Regions from separate parts of the Homo sapiens genome. Here region 1 is linked to region 2. Evidence: fine-mapped expression QTL. A gene starts in region 2. The other region holds a variant in brackets. All regions are shown on one strand. Distances are from middle to middle. Region 1 overlaps LOC105371825 (a long non-coding RNA gene). Region 2 holds the start of EME1 (essential meiotic structure-specific endonuclease 1).

Evidence for each region.
Region 1: its variant is fine-mapped to the expression of EME1 in testis (GTEx, PIP 0.97).

What each region holds. Positions count from the first base shown.
Region 1 is chr17:50,887,722-50,890,635 of GRCh38, reverse strand. It overlaps LOC105371825 (a long non-coding RNA gene), which reads left to right. Exons shown (of 3, transcript XR_001752940.2): 3 at 2,057-2,914. Among named protein-coding and RNA genes, the nearest start is that of TOB1-AS1, 22 kb to the right of the region's middle. The variant G/C (reference allele first, on the strand shown) is at 1,705.
Region 2 is chr17:50,371,874-50,374,787 of GRCh38, reverse strand. EME1 (essential meiotic structure-specific endonuclease 1) reads right to left here and starts at 1,559. Exons shown (of 9, transcript NM_152463.4): 1 at 1,511-1,559. It overlaps MRPL27 (mitochondrial ribosomal protein L27), which reads left to right and starts at 1,604. Exons shown (of 4, transcript NM_016504.3): 1 at 1,604-1,657. The coding sequence starts at 1,618. RefSeq lists enhancers at 1,241-1,460, 1,601-2,070.

The sequences.
Region 1 (2,914 bases), 520 kb before region 2:
CGAGGGATTCTTGAGCCTCAGCCACCTGAGTAGCTGGGATTATGGGCGCCAGCCACCATGCCTGGATAATTTTTGTATTTTTAGTAGAGATGGGTTTCTCCATGTTGGCCAGGCTGGTTTTGAACTTCTGGCCTCAAGTGATCTGCCTGCCTCAGCCTCCCAAAGTGTTGGGATTACAGGCATGAGCCACCGCACCTGGCCAATTAGGAGTTTTTTAGATGTCAAGTCTCAGGCAGACCTTGGTGCCTTATTGGCAGGAAATTGAAAGCCTATAGGTACTAGGTGGTGGAGGATTTGACCAGTTCTGCCACAGTGGGTTCTTCTAAAGCCAGCTCCCAGGACAGGGGCCATTCTTTCCTTATGAATGACCAAGACCATACTGGCTATTTCAACCGACTAGCGTTTTCTTCCTATTTATAATCAATAGCATCATTTTCAGCATCCTGGTTCTTCTTTTTTATGTAAAATAAAATAAATAGCGTCCCTCAAATCACACTTTTTTTAAAATCACACCTTCTTTAAATCTCATACACCATCTATATGCAGGACTCAGAGATCATCCCCCTTAGCCCCAGGCAGCTTGACTGTCATTTGGATAAAGCTAGGAAAGAATGAAGGATGTAATTGGGTGTTAGTAGGTATGAGAGCTCTGAAGGAGAGGTGCCTGCAAAGTTCCAGGCAAAGTCAGCCTCCAGGTAGGCAGCCAGAGTCCAGGGAACACATATTTGCTGAAGGTTTGTAGAAGTCCATGGGTCAGATTCCCAGCAGCATTGGGAAAAGGGACATTTAGCAGCAGTGACAGAGAGAGTTCGAAATGGAGTTTCCTTCTACCTTAGCGGAGAAGCACTTTCATGAGCTTCCATTTAAGATAGCAACTAATCTCATGATACGACCTGCAGAAACCTGTAGCAAGGGAGCCATTGGAACTGGTATTCAGTGGGATCTGTCAGAGCTCAGAGCTGGGAGGGCCAAATCCAGAAATCTGGCAGACAGTAAGTGGGCAAGAGGTCAAAACAGGGAAGGAGTTCATTAGCACATGCAAAGGCTTAGATTGAGCTTGGCTCAAAGTGCATGCCCTGTAAGTGCCCTTGTGGTGGCTGATGGCAAGGATGATGGTGTTATTTTGGCAGCCAGGATCTGGGTTTCAGGGACAGGATTTCTTAGTTTCTTAGAGCAGAGGTGACCAGACTGGGATTTGATGCTTTATCAAAATTTTTTGGGCAGGATGCGGTGGCTCACGCCTTTAATCCCAGCACTTTGGGAGGCCGAGGCAGGCAGATCACTTGAGGTCAGGATTTTGAAACCAGCCTGACCAACATGGAGAAACGCTGTCTCTACTAAAAATACAAAAATTAGCCAGGTGTGGTGGCGCACACATGTAATCCCAGCTACTCAGGAGGCTGAGGTAGGAGAATTGCTTGAACCTGGGAGGCAGAAGTTGCAGTGAACTGAGATTGTGCTACTGCACTCCAGCCTGGGTGACAGAGTGAGACTCCGTCTCAAAAAGAAAAAAAGAGAAAAAAATTTCCTCAAATCTGGGAACCAATATTGTCAACTTTAAATTTAGCCAAGTGAGGCAATTCCTTTTTTTCTTGGAGACACCATCTCTGTCACCCAGGCTGGAGTACAATGGCACAATCTCAGCTCACTGCAACCTTTACCTCCCAGGTTCAAGCGATTCTCCTGCCTTAGCCTCCCAAGTAG[G/C]TGGGATTACAGGTACGTGCCACCATGCCTGGCTAATTTTTGTGTTTTAGTAGAGATGGGGTATCAGTATGTTGGCCAGGCTGGTCTCGAACTCCTGACCTCAGGTGATCTATCCACCTTGGCTTCCCAAAAATACTAGGATTACAGGCATGAGCCACTCACTGCTCCCGACCTAGTGAGGCAATTCAAACAACCAAAAAAAGCCCTATCACCTCCCATCACCATGTCTTCATAAAAGAAAAGCCATCTTATCACCAAAAGTAAAACAGCCATCATATCAGAATTTAAACTAGAAACAAAAATTAACGTTATTAAAAGCTCACTTATGTTTTGTTGTTGTTGTTGTTTCCAGTTTGTAGCTGATGGACAAAAACTTTGTCATGGATCAGCGCTGATGGGTAGAGTTTAGGATGCATTCATGCCCAGGGCTCCTCTGCCCAGGCTTGGGGCTACCTTGTGGGGCTTGGTTGTGAGGACCATGGCCAAGGCTGGGTGGCCAGGGACGAAGTATCTGTCCTGGCCTGAGCACCTGTGCTGACCTAGCCCATCCACGCCATCACAGTGGGCACCTTTGCTGTCCTTCTGGGAATTCTCCCAGTCACTAGTGAGGGTGATAGCTTTCCCACTTCTGGCCCAACCTGCTCCCACTCCATTCCAGGGCCCCCTGGGTCATCTCCCACTTACAGCCCTCCTCTCGCCTTTGGGATCTGACACCTGAACTCGCTTTCTGCAGTTTGCCCTTTGGCATTCTTCAAGGGCTTTGGCTGATCCTGCCTTCTGGCTGCTCCTGCTCCTCCTGCCTGATCCCCACCTCTGGACCCCAGCCTGGGCTGTCCTCAACTGTCTGGAAACTACTCAGAATGTTAGATCTTGAATCACCTCTTGCAGCCACCACAGTGTGGACTCAATCCTTTTTCCATTCATGTTCTCCTGTTCTGCAACTGGGCTGAAATGACTGCATGGCGATGAGGGAGAGAAGACTGAGTCTCAAGTGGGGACGCAATTTGTGGAAAACAATAGGCCCCAGGGCAAGGAGCGAAATGGGCAATTAGCCCAGGTCTGTGTTGAAGTCAGTCTCTTGGACTTACCTGGAAGCTCTCTAAGGCAGGGATATATTCAGATCATCTTTTCATTTTTTTATTTCCTTCCTCCTCCCAACTCTCCATGTTCACCCCTCCCCAAAAAAACTAGTAAAGCTCATTTGCAATAT
Region 2 (2,914 bases):
ACTGCAACCTCACTCCCAGGTTCAAGTGATTCTCCTGCCTCAGCCTAGCTGGGATTACAGGCGCCCCACCACCACACCTGGCTAATTTTTGTATTTTTAGTAGAGATGCGTTTTCATCATGTTCGCCAGGCTAGTCTTGAACTCCTGACCTCAAGTGATCCGCCCGCCTTGGCCTCCCAAAGTGCTGAGATTACAGGTGTGAACCACTGCACCTGGCCAAAAACTGTTCTTTTTAAAAATTGAGATATAGGCTGGGCATGGTAGCTCATGCGTATAATCCCAGCACTTTGGGAGGCCAAAGCAGAAGGATCACTTGAGCCCAGGAGTTCGAGAACAGCCTGGGCAACATAGTGAGAACTCGTCTCTACAAAAAAATACAAAAATTAGCTGGGTATGGTGGCTCACACCTGTAGTCCCAGATACTCAGGAGGCTGAGGTGGGAGGATTGCTTGAGCCTGGGAGGTCAAGGCTGCAGTGAGCTGTGATTGTACGACTGCACTCCAGCCCGGGTGACAGAGTGAGACCCTGCTTCAAAAGAAAAATAAAATAAAAATAAAAATAGAGATATAATTTGCACAGCATAATATCCTTTTAAAAGTGTACATTCAGTAGATTTTAGTATATTCACAATGTTGTGCAACCATCATCACTATTTTATCACCTCAAAAAGAATTCCTGCAGCCATTAAGCCGTCACTGTCCTTTCCCTCCCTCCCCAGCTCCTGGCAACCATAAATCTGTCTCTATGCATTTGCCTATTCTGGATATTTCATATAAATAGAATCATACACTATGTGGCCTTTTGTGATTGACTTTTTTCACTCAGCTTGTTTTCAAGGTTTATCTATGATGTAGCCTGTATCAGTAGTTAATTGCTTTTCATGACTGAATAATATTCCACTGTATGGATATGCTACATTTTGTTTATCCATTCATCACTTGGACATTTAATTTGTTTCCTTTTTTTGCCTGTTATGAATAATGCTGCTATGAACACTGACATACAAGTTTTTGTGGGGGTATGTTTTCAAATCCCTTTCGTGTATATACCTAGGAGTAGAATTGCTGGGTCATATGCAAAGCTAATCATTTCTTGAACATTTACTAACACTGTAGGTATGACCCAGAAGGAGACATGTAACCTGCCTAGGCCTCAGTTTCTTCCTTAGTAAAACAGGGATGGTAACAGCACCCATTTTATAAGGTAGTGAGAATTAAATAAAATAATGCATCCACCGCGCTTAGTACAGCATCTGGCACACAGCTGGCTAAGTAGAGTAAGTTGAATGACTAGGGAGGGGGCCTCATCTCTGACCCTTCGCTGGGCCTCCGTTGACATCTGCAAATCAGGGGAGTGGGACAAGCGGGCCCCTGCCCGACAAGCTCTGCGCCTCTCAGGCTGGCGGTCCGCTGCAGAGGCTCCTGGACACCTTAGCCACCAAGATTCTGCAGAGCGGTGTTCAGGAGGGAAGCCCTGCCCAATCCGCAGGCCTGCGACCGGGGACGCTCACCTGCAACTTCTCCCGCCACTCTTTCAACTGCCACGCAGGGCCCGGAAGTAGATCTCCTGATAGCGGAAGTAGAAACTTTTCGAGACCGGAAGTGAGTGATCGAAAGCATGGCGTCGGTGGTGTTGGCGCTGAGGACCCGGACAGCCGGTAATGGGACGCAGTAGTCAGAGCGGGGTGAGGCGGGGAGGCAGAGTGGAGCTCCAGCAGGGAGGGAAGGAGGTGACACTGATCCCCGCGGAGGACCTTGGATGCGAGGGGAAGTGTGTGGGGTACTCCAGGTTTGAGGGACGGTGTCGCTGGTCACGTGACACATCCTGGGTGGAGCCGTGAGTGAGGGCGTTTGAAGAGCACTTGTCTTTCTCCTGCCTCAGCAGCACGGACGGGTTCCTTGGCGGTTGGGGATTTGGGTGGGTCCTTTCTCTGTAGAAGTATTAGTAACATTGGCATATTGGGGTTGAAAAAATTAATCTATTGATTCAGCAGATTGAGGTCTTACTTTGTGCTAGACACGGCGGTAGGTGTTCGGAAAATCAGCAGAAAACGTGAAGACTTGGCTTCTAGCCCCCGAACGGTTCTCTCTGGTGCATAAGGCAATAAATGAACATATAAAGTAGATGTAGACTGGCAAGTGCTGTGAAGAAGGATAATGTGTGTCTGTGTGTGTGTCTTTTTTTAGATTGGACGGTGAAGGAAGGCTTCTGAGGAGATAACATTTAAAACCTAAAGAATGACAGGCGGGGCGTGATGGCTCACGCCTGTAGTCCCAACACTTTGGGAGGCCTAGGTGGGCGGATCGCTTGAGCCCAGGAGTTCAAGACCGACTGGGCAACATGGCAAAACCCCATCTCTACAAAAAATACAAAAATTAGCTGGGTGTAGTGGCGCTTGCCTGTGGTCTCAGATACTCAGGAGGCTGAGGTGGGAGGATCACCTGAGCTCGGGAGGTCGAGGTTGCAGTGAGCTATGTTCATACCACTGCACTCCAGCCTGGGTGACAGAATGGGGCCCTATCCCCCCCCCCCAAAAAAAAAAGAATGACAGGAGACCTAGACCTGTGTAGAGTGAGGGACAGGAGAGTGACTTGAGCCAGTTTTACATTTTGAGAAGCAAACTATTGCTCTTATGTAAATTTAAAGGGGATAGGAGTGGAAATGAGGAAATCAAATGGAAAGTCGTAATAGCCCTGAGGAGAGATGATTTAGCCAAGATGTTTGTGGTGGCAGTGAACTTGGAGGAAAACGGATGAATTTGAGATCTGTTTTGGAGTTAGCATCCACAGAGCTTGCTGGTGAACAATATGTGAGGACAGCAAAGAGAAGGAATCTGCAATGACTCTGGTTTCTGCCTAAGCAACTGGATGAATGGTGGTACCATTTACTTTGAGGAGGAGGATGGGGAGTAGGG